2 linked regions of the Homo sapiens genome follow. The protein of the gene in region 1 purifies or fractionates together with the protein of each later gene. This does not show direct contact. Each region holds a gene or a part of one and is shown on either strand. Other genes may lie near its edges.

Region 1 (5,280 bases):
CATGTCCAGAGACTTACCGTATGCCGTGCCTGCCTTCTTCTCAGAGGGCTGGAGGTTAGAGCATAGTCATGGCTTCTGATTCCAGTAAACACTCAAGGAAAATAATAGGAATACAATGACTTTCTGACTGCCTTGCTTTACCGAGGGACGGGAACTGGCAGGACCCCCGTAACTCTCTGAGCTGAGCCTCGGGGCTCCAGGAAGAGATTTGCCACCCTGTGGTGGCCCCTGATATGTAGCTCTGTCTGGCGTCTTCCTCCTGTGTGACCCTTCGGGAAGAAGCAGGTTTAACCCTCCTGCTAGCTTCTTGTTTCTGCTTTTTAAAAATGACATTTAGAAGGTCAGGTTTTTTCCTGTTTCAAACAAAATTCATGTTTATTGAGGAAAACTCAGCAAATCAGAGGAACAAAAAATAATCTCATTTTATAACCTGCATTTTCATGTACTATATCCTGGGCATTTCCCAGACCACTAAATACTTCTTCCCCATGTCTTTATTTTATTTTGTTTTGTTTTATTTTTTGAGATGGAGTCTTACTCTGTTGCCTGGCGCAGTCTCGGCTCACTGCAACCTCTGCCTCCCTGGTTCATGCAATTTTCTTGCCTCAGCCTCCCAAATAGCTGGGATTACAGGCGTCCGCCACCATGCCTGGCTAATTTTTGTATTTTTGGTAGAGACGGGGTTTCACCACGTTGGCCAGGCTGGTCTCAAACTCCTGACCTCAAGCGATCTGCCCACCTTGGCCTCCCAAAGTGCTAGGATTACTGCACCAGGCCCACATGTCATTATTTTAAATGACTACATCAGATTTTATCTGATGGACATATATACATTATTTAATATTCCCATTGTTGGACCCTTACATGAGTTCCAATTTTTTCTAGACAAATATCCACATAGGTAAGACTTAGAAGAAATTCATATTATTTCATTAGGATAAATTTCTAAAAATGGGAGCAGTGGGCCAAAGGGCATATACATCTTTTAGGTTTTTCATATAAATTGCCAATTTATATTCCCATGAGAAGGGTATGAGAGTACCTGTTTTCTCAAGCCCTTTGCTGACAGCTACGTTAGTGCTTAGGCCACAGTTTCTTTAATCATGGGTATCAAAAGTTGCTGTTATTAGCTCCCTACTACGTATAAGATCTCTACCAGGAGATAGAACAGAGAATTTGAATGCCCCCCACCTTATTTTTTTCTTGAGACAGGGTCTCACTCTGTTGCCCAGGCTGGAGTGCAGTGGCCTGATCACGGCTCACTACAGCCTCAACCTCCCCAAGCTCTGGTGATCCTCCCATTTCAGCCTCCCAAGCAGCTGGGAATTCAGGCATACACTGCCGCATCCAGCTAATTTTTATATTTTTTTGTAGATATGGGGTTTCCCCATGTTGCTCAAGCTGGTCTCAAACTCCTGGGCTCAAGTGATCCTTCCACCTCGACCCCCTAAAGTGCTGGGATTACCGGCGTGAGCCTCCACACCCAGCCTCTTATTTCTTCCTTGACGTGGGCTCCTCCTCTTGTGCTGCCTGTGGCATCCTGAGAGGAAGCTGTTGTCCTTCTTCAGGTGGAGGGAATAGTAAAGAGGCTAATAAATTGGTGGCCTGCACCACAGGACTTTATAAGAAACCTTTTGCATCTTTGGATCTTCTAATAAATGAAGGTGCAGCACTGCTTTTTGACACGCAGGTACATCTGTGTATTGGACACATTTCCCTTCCAAATGTTTAACTCCACTTTACAAAGGTTTATTTGACAGCATGTGCTAGATTCAAGGCTCTAGGTTAGAGAACCCAGACCCCAACGAACTTACAGTTGATAGAGATACAAAAATAAGATAGTGCTAAGCATGGCAGCCTATGATCAGTGTAGCCAGGAGCTTCCGAGGAGAAGATTACATCTGAGCACTTTTTGAGCAGCTCCTTAATTCAGAATACCTTCACTTGTGCTGTCGTTATGGGATGATATGGCATAAAAGCACCAGGACTCCCATAGCTCTGGGTTATTCCACCTTCTAACTATGTGGCTTTGGGTAAGTTACCCCTTCTGAGCCCTATTTCCTCACCTATAAAAGCAGGATAATCCCATTTACCTTGTGATCATTGTGGGAACTAAGTGTGAGAATGAAGGTCAAGGGTCTGGAAAAGCACAGGGGTAGGCCGTCCACACAGGGAAACTCTTCTTTTTAGCAGGTGCTCTCTCCGTTTTGCAAATTGAGGTTCAATTTGCACAGTGCTGTGACATTTTTCAAAGCTTCCTCCTATCTCATTTCACCCATTCTCCCAGTAGCTTTGATGTTTGCCAAGCAGGTGGTAGTCTCCCATTGCAAAAATAAGGCAATAGGTGCAGAGAGGTTGAGTGATTTGGAAAGATTAGACAACTAGTTAATGGGAAAAACAAAACTAGACGATAGTATTTTTACTTATAAGCGTGAACTAAGATGCTTTTTCCAAAACTACTACATGAATTGTTCTTTTTTTCTAAATAACTATTACCTTAGAGTTTTCTATTAATACCCAGATTTTCTTACCATATTACCTTGCAGCTTCATTTTTTTTTCAGCCAAACACAAACAGGCACACACACCCACGCACAAAATTTTACCTGAACCAAAAGTGAATTTGTTCATGTTTGACCTTATTCATTCTCTCATATCTATCTTGTAGGATCTTCACCTGGATCCAAAATGCCCCTTTTGCCCATTGTTGTTTTCTAGCACAGATGGAACCCCTCCCCATCTTTTTCCACTTGACCTGAGCACCTTTGGACAGCCCCTTTCCAAAAGAGCTGTTTCTGTTTGGCCATCGACAGCCTCTTTCATCACTGAGCCTCAGCCTGGCTGAGACTGGTTGATCAAACGTGGGCCACCTGATCCAAGCCCTCCCAGTAAAGCCAGGAGGTCATCATCTCCCTTTGTTGTTTACCAAGCAGTACAGACTTCTCAGGTCTGGCCTCTACAGGCAGCCTTGATTCCTTAGGAAAGGAGGCCAGCTGGTAGGCAGCTGGATGTGTGAGGTCAAATATTGGTAGTAATGGTAGTAATTGGTAGTAATATGGTAATTCCTATAATTTACTGAATAGCTAATAATATTCTTGACACTCAGTTGTATTATCTGTCTCCTTTAATCTTCATGCTACCATATGCCCATTTCACAGATGAGGAAACTGAGTCTTAGAGATGTATATATGTTTCTTCCTTAATGCATAATTTTTCAATAAGGAATTACTTTCCTCCATGTCCCACCATTCTCTCTTAGCTGAGAAGTTAGGAGCAACCAAGTATCAAGTTTCTCATGTGCAGAATTTAATGAGTACTAAGGGGATATATTTTGTTGATCAAAGTGTATATTTGTTTTGCAATGAAAATAATTGGAACTTGTGTTCATTATATAATTCTGGCTGAGTTATTTTTATTTGGTAAGAAACATGATTATTTAAATATTTATTTGTACATGTATTCTCTGCCTTGTTCCAATGAAGGTTTAAGCAACTTCCTTGACTTGAATAAAACACGGGACCCTTATTGCATGAGTGGCCCCATCCATGTTCCAAATGACCCACGTGTATAGTCAGCTGCCAGCTTCAGCCACCGGAGCCATGGCCTGCCTTTTGCACATTGTGGTTTTTCTTTTCCTGATAATTTGACTTCAGTCATCAGAAGCACAAATTAAATGTAAATTTCTGGATTTAAAAAGATTTCTTTGGTCCCTAAATGTTTCCCAAGTCATAGAGTCCTGAGTCAGACTTCAATCTTTTTATTTTCTGCCAGAAAGATGAGGGGTAAGAAGGGGTAGGAACAAACACATCTTATTCACAAACAACAACATCATCAGTAAACAAATGTGGAAAAACTGTCCATACTCATAATTAAAGTAATGCAAATTAAAGCAACAAGTCAAATTTTTCACCTATTAAATTAGCGATACATTTTTAAAATGATACAGCTCACAAGTATCGTGAAACTGGTAATGCATCCATTGTTGGTAGTTGGTGTAAATTGGAAAGCAATTTGATAGGATGAATAAAAACCCTTGAAAATGTTTATATCTGTTGTCCTAGTAATTTCATTCCTGGGGATTTCCATAAAAAGAGATAATATGAAAGAAAGAAAAACTGCAGTATATATCACTGGCATTTTGAATGTTTAAAAAAAAATTAGAATCCTAAATGCCCAATAGTAGTAGAATATTGAATCGTGGTATATTAAATTATTGTATATCCGCTCAATGAAATATGCATTCAGTAAAATTATTTTTGTAATGACTTTGTAACAACATGAAAATGCTTATAATATAGTGGGGAAAAGCAGGATATAAAATTATGCATGAGCTGTGATTGCAAGTAATTTTTAAACGTCTGCATGTGGACAAAGTAAATACATAAAAATGAAAATGGCTGTGTAAGAGAGTAGGATGAACAATAATAATTGTTTTCCCCACTGTTGTGAATTATGATGTTATCTTTATAACTTCACATGGATGGTTTGGGTTTCTCTAGTTCTTAAAAGTCAAAGAGCCAAGTTAGCCCTCCATTCCCTCCATCTTCATCAAGAGGTCAGGCTCAGAATGTCACGGAGAGAGTCGCCTGGCAGGCCTCTTCGTTGTGGGGTGAGAGGGAACATGGGTGCCAGAACCCCAGTGCCAACCGCTGACTATCCTTCTCCCTACAGGACATTGCCGAGAATGGCTGCGCCCCCACCCCAGAAGAGCAGCTGCCAAAGACTGCACCGTCCCCACTGGTGGAGGCCAAGGACCCCAAGCTCCGAGAAGACCGGCGGCCAATCACAGTCCACTTTGGACAGGTGTGTACCCTGGCCCTCCTACCTGTCTGTTTTGTTTTTTTTTTATTTTTGTTTTTAGCAGCAGTAGCACATGCAGCAGACGGTTTTTCATTTCAGTTCTCTTTGGCAGTGCAGCTCCATGGAGGTTTTCACATCTTTAAATGTTTATTTGGTGCAAACATGTTTTGCAGGCAAATTTTCAAAAATTTTGAGGAGACAGCACGGCTGAGGTCATAAATGAGCGGGACTGTTGAATGAAGTCATTAAATGCACTGCTGCCTCCCGTACTCCAAGGCACTCTGCTTAAGGTGCCTCTGTTAGCTAAGCATCTCATTAGAACACTTTAGCATCCCGGGCCCTTCTTTGCACCTTCAAATAAAAGGCAACAAGCGAAGTCTTAAAAAAAAAATCAATTAGGAGTTCTTTATTAATGTACTTCCTGAAAATCAATATCAGGAGTCGTGCTTCTGAGAGTAAACACCCGTGCTACAATTCTAGA
Region 2 (4,415 bases), on another chromosome or scaffold:
GACGGCCGGGATAGGAAGTTGGGGAGATGAGCAGACTCAGATGGCTCCAGCTCACAAGCTCAGGTTTATCTAAAAGTGCTAGGAAAGCACGAGACCTGTGCTGTCCAAATCAGTAGCCACTGGCTATATGTGGCTATTTAAAATCAAATTAGGGACAGCATGGTGGCTCATGCCTGTAATCCCAGCACTTTGGAAGGCTGAGGTGGGAAGATTGCTTGAGGAGTTCAAGATCAAGCCTGGGCAATGTAGTGAGAACCCATCTCTACAAAAAAAAAAAAATTTTTTTTTTAACTAGCCAGGCATGGTGGCATGTGCCTGTAGTCCCAACTACTGAGGAGGCTGAGGCAGGAGGGTCACTTGAGCCCAGGAGTTCAAGGCTGCAGCGAGCTATGATCATGCGATCACACCACTGCACTCCAGCCTGGGTGACAGATAAATAAAAATTAAAAATTAAATTAAATTAATTGCAATTAAAATATAAAATTCCATTTTTTTTTTTTTTGAGATGGAGTCTCGCTCTGTCACCCAGGCTGGAGTGCAGTGGTGCGACCTCGGCTCACTGCAACCTCTGCCTCCCGGGTTCAAGTGATTCTCCTTCCTCAGCCTCCTGAGTAGCTGGGACTACAGGCACATGTCACCACGCCCAGCTAATTTTTGTATTTTTAGTAGAAATGGGGTTTCACCATGTTGGCCAGGATGGTCTCGATCCCCTGACTTTGTGATCCACCCGCCTCAGCCTCCCAAAGTGCTGGGATTACAGGTGTGAGCCACCACGCCCAGCCTAGAATTCCATTTCTCTGTCACACGGTGATCACATTTTAAGTGTGCTCAATAGCCACATGTGGCTAGCAGCTAATATATCAGGCAGTGCAGACATGGGACATTTGTATCACTGCAGAAGGTTCTGCTGGGCAGCACTGCCTTAGAGAATTCAGAGTCAGAGGGCACTTACTGTCCACACTGCTGAGCACATGTCAGCTCTACAGATATCCTCTCTTCAACTCTCAGGCTCCCCAAAGAGAAGCCAGCACCTGGGCCCCAGTGACATCTACCTGGATGACTTGCCCTCCCTGGACTCTGAGAATGCAGCGCTTTACTTCCCCCAAAGGTGCCTGGGTTCTGGATGCCAGGGTGTCTTGGGTCTGGGCTCCTGGGGCCAAGGGTCCACTATCAAGGGCCTGTGAGGAGGGAGGACCCATCTCCCGCCCTCCTCGTATTCTTGTCATTGTTGGCCCCTTTGCCTGCAGTGACTCTGGGCTGGGGGCCAGAAGATGGAGTGAACCCAGCAGTCAGAAGTCCCTGAGGGACCCCAACCCTGAACATGAACCTGAACCCACTCTGGACACAGTGGATACAATAGCACTGTCCCTCTGTGGTGGACTGGCTGACAGCCGGGACATCTCCCTAGGTATGTTCGACCATGGCCAAGCCCTTTTGAGGGCTGGTGCTGAGCCCAGAGGATGGGGAGGGCAGGGAAGACTGTGAGGGTGGGGCAGTAGAGGTGAGAGGCTGGGCTTCCCTGCAGCTCTCTGCCCTGTGCAGTCCACACTCCGCCAGCAGGGGCTGGACCTTCCCAAGTCCCCATGAAGCAAAATGCTTGACGCTAAGTTGTGAGTTATCCTGTGAATCCTGGGGTGGGAACAGGTGTAAAAACCACAGGTAGGGAGGAGCACTGCCAGGTTACAAAGCCAACCGACAGGAGGTGAGCAGCAGAGTGGGGAGCACCAGGGGGCTGGGGCAGCGGGTCACATGGGATGTGCCAGCCTCACCCCTCACTCTGCCTCTGTGCCCAGAGAAATTCAACCAGCACAGCGTCTCTTACCAGGACCTCACCAAAAACCCCGGACTTTTGGATGACCCAAACCTAGTGGTGAAAATCAATGGAAAGTAAGTCCCAGAGCTGGGGCTGCTGGCAGCCGGAGAGTCATTTCCCTCTTCACAACCCTGCAGCTGCTGCAGCTTGATGCCCTGTTCTGTCTCTCTAGGCATTATAACTGGGCTGTGGCTGCCCCCATGATCCTCTCCCTGCAAGCCTTCCAGAAAAACTTGCCCAAGGTAATGGTTAGAGCACCACTGCCCCTGCTGGGGAAGGTAGCCATAGACTCAGGGCACGGAGACCCTTAGCAAGGAAGTGAAGGGTGAGCAGAGATGGGCCTGGGAGCCAGGGGCTAGCTGGCTGCAAGACTCACTCTGGGAGAGGCGACACACGTCCCTGAAGCCTTGCCTCACCCTTCCCTGGTTTCCTGGCCGTGGCTGAATCCTGTTGTATTTAAACTTGACTTCAGAGGAGCTCAGGACAAACCAGAGGGGAAGAAAAATCCAACAGATGCTTAAACAAGGACATGTCTTTAGCAGGAGGCCTTTGCATCTGAAATATGGGGAAGCCTTTGGATCTGAAATACGGGGTTTGGGAAATGGAAGTTGCACCCTTCACCTTGCCTGAAGACTATTCCTCCAGGCTGGGCTGAAGGGTGCTTACTTTCTTTATCTGCACACATTTCTTGAGTACCTACTATGTCCCAGGCCTAGGCTGGGGACAGTCATGAATAAACGAAACAAAATTATCCCTGCTCTCAAAGGAAGACGAAGTTAACCAAAGACTCATCCAGATGAATATAATTCAGTCCTGAGCACTGGGAAGGATGGGTGTGCAGTGCTTGCAGAGCCTATGGCAAGGGGGTTTGATAAGCAAGTGCCCGCTGTGCAGAGATTGAAGGATGGGTGGGCCTTGAGCTGGCCAGGGGTGGGGAACAGCATGTATGATGCCCAGAGGGGGAAAGGAATGAGGGTATGCCTAGCCTCTTTACTCTTCCCAGAACCTCTTCCCTGGTCTTCCCAGCCACCTTCCCCTACTCATGGAGGATGGTGCCCTCCTGGGCAGTGCCAGCCTGTGCCAACCTGCACCTGCCCCTCTGGGAGCAATCCAAGGCACCACACTGACCTGGCATGGCCTATTGTTCTTGGCTTGCCCAAAGAGCATCACTAACAGATGTTGACAGCTGTCACTGCCATTGGGTGACAGCTTTGTCCTCTGGCTGGTACAGGGTCTGAGGTAGGACCCAGAGTCTGTGGGAAGGAAGAGGGTCCCTTCCCTGCTTGGATCTCCTCACCTTACCCAGACAGACCCACCGCTTGAGGCCCCTGAGAGACCCCTACCCCACCAGCCTGTTCCCAGCTCAAGGGGGCCCCCTGGCTATTCCCAGCCCAAGCCCACATCCTCCTGACTTGGGTCTGTAGGATGCTGGTGTGTCCCCCAGATGGGACTTGGCCTGGCCTCTCCCTGGGGTTATCTATAATAGCATAGATCTAATCAGCATTTTTTCACAAGGTCAACTTGCCCCCAACCAGACAGTTATGGTAACATACAGAAAAGGGGGTTGTTCATGGAATAGGATCACCAACCTTAGGAGGTTGCCTGGGGCAGTCTTGGAGGTTGAGGGGAGTACCAGCTAAAGATTGTTCTCCCTGCTGCCACTTGGTCACAGCATAGGGAGTACCAGATCTTGAGAAACTCCCAAAGCATTGCTTTTAACTACTCTAGTAAAGGAATGGATCCACAAGATTTGGAGGCCAGGCTGAGGCTGGGTTAGAGCTAGGGACCGGGGCTGGGGGCAGGAATAGCCCTTGGTCTTTTGAGTATAGCTCACCCAAGTCATTGCTTGGAATCCCAGGATGGAGGTGAGCACACTTCCTTGGCCTCCAGATGTTGACAGCACCTTACCCTAGGGTTGGCTCAGACTCTGGGCTCATGCGTGGAGGGTCCCAAGAACAACGTAAGGTAGGAGGTTTATGTGGTGCAGGAAACACTGCCATGGCTTTCATCTGCCCACAGAGCACCATGGACAAGCTGGAGAGGGAGAAGATGCCCCGGAAGGGTGGGCGATGGTGGTTTTCCTGGCGACGCAGGGACTTCCTGGCCGAGGAGGTGGGTGGTCACAGTCGAGGGCCAGGGCCAGGGCCAGCACAGGGCGGGAGGTGGGATTCACTAATGGATGTTCTTTCCACAGCGCAGTGCCCAGAAGGAGAAGACTGCAGCCAAGGAGCAGCAGGGGTGAGTGAGACCCCCTATTGGGGCTCTGCAGGGGGAGCCTGGGAAAGATGGCCCTGGGTGCAGGTGGGTGGCAGGGAGGAGCCAGCACCCTGTCTCCAGCTGTGGGTTTTTTTTTTTGTCATTCCTCAAGCACCAAGCACTTCTTTTTTTGTTGTTTTTGTTTGTTTTTGAGACAGAGTCTGGCTCTGTCACCCAGGCTGGAGTGCAGTGGTACGATCTTGGCTCACTGCAACCTCCACCTCCCGGGTTCAAGCGATTTTCCTGCCTCAGCCTCCTGAGTAGCTGGGATTACAGGTGCCCGCCACCACACCTGGCTACTTTTGTATTTTTAGTGAGACAGGGTTTCACCCTGTTGGTCAGGCTG

The links.
Region 2: the proteins of DENND1A (region 1) and LPIN3 purify together in Homo sapiens (affinity purification with mass spectrometry, with the first as the bait; one large-scale study listed by BioGRID). This does not show direct contact.

What each region holds. Positions count from the first base shown.
Region 1 is NC_000009.12:123,439,882-123,445,161, reverse strand, and holds part of DENND1A (DENN domain-containing protein 1A), read left to right. Parts: intron 1-4,670; coding exon 4,671-4,802; intron 4,803-4,972; coding exon of another isoform or gene 4,973-4,993; exon of another isoform or gene 4,994-5,280. UniProt on the Homo sapiens protein: Guanine nucleotide exchange factor (GEF) regulating clathrin-mediated endocytosis through RAB35 activation. Promotes the exchange of GDP to GTP, converting inactive GDP-bound RAB35 into its active GTP-bound form.
Region 2 is NC_000020.11:41,350,813-41,355,227, forward strand, and holds part of LPIN3 (phosphatidate phosphatase LPIN3), read left to right. Parts: intron 1-1,008; coding exon 1,009-1,108; intron 1,109-1,247; coding exon 1,248-1,408; intron 1,409-1,525; coding exon of another isoform or gene 1,526-1,587; exon of another isoform or gene 1,588-1,610; intron 1,611-1,793; coding exon 1,794-1,887; intron 1,888-1,985; coding exon 1,986-2,055; intron 2,056-3,832; coding exon 3,833-3,925; intron 3,926-4,007; coding exon 4,008-4,051; intron 4,052-4,415. UniProt on the Homo sapiens protein: Magnesium-dependent phosphatidate phosphatase enzyme which catalyzes the conversion of phosphatidic acid to diacylglycerol during triglyceride, phosphatidylcholine and phosphatidylethanolamine biosynthesis therefore regulates fatty acid metabolism.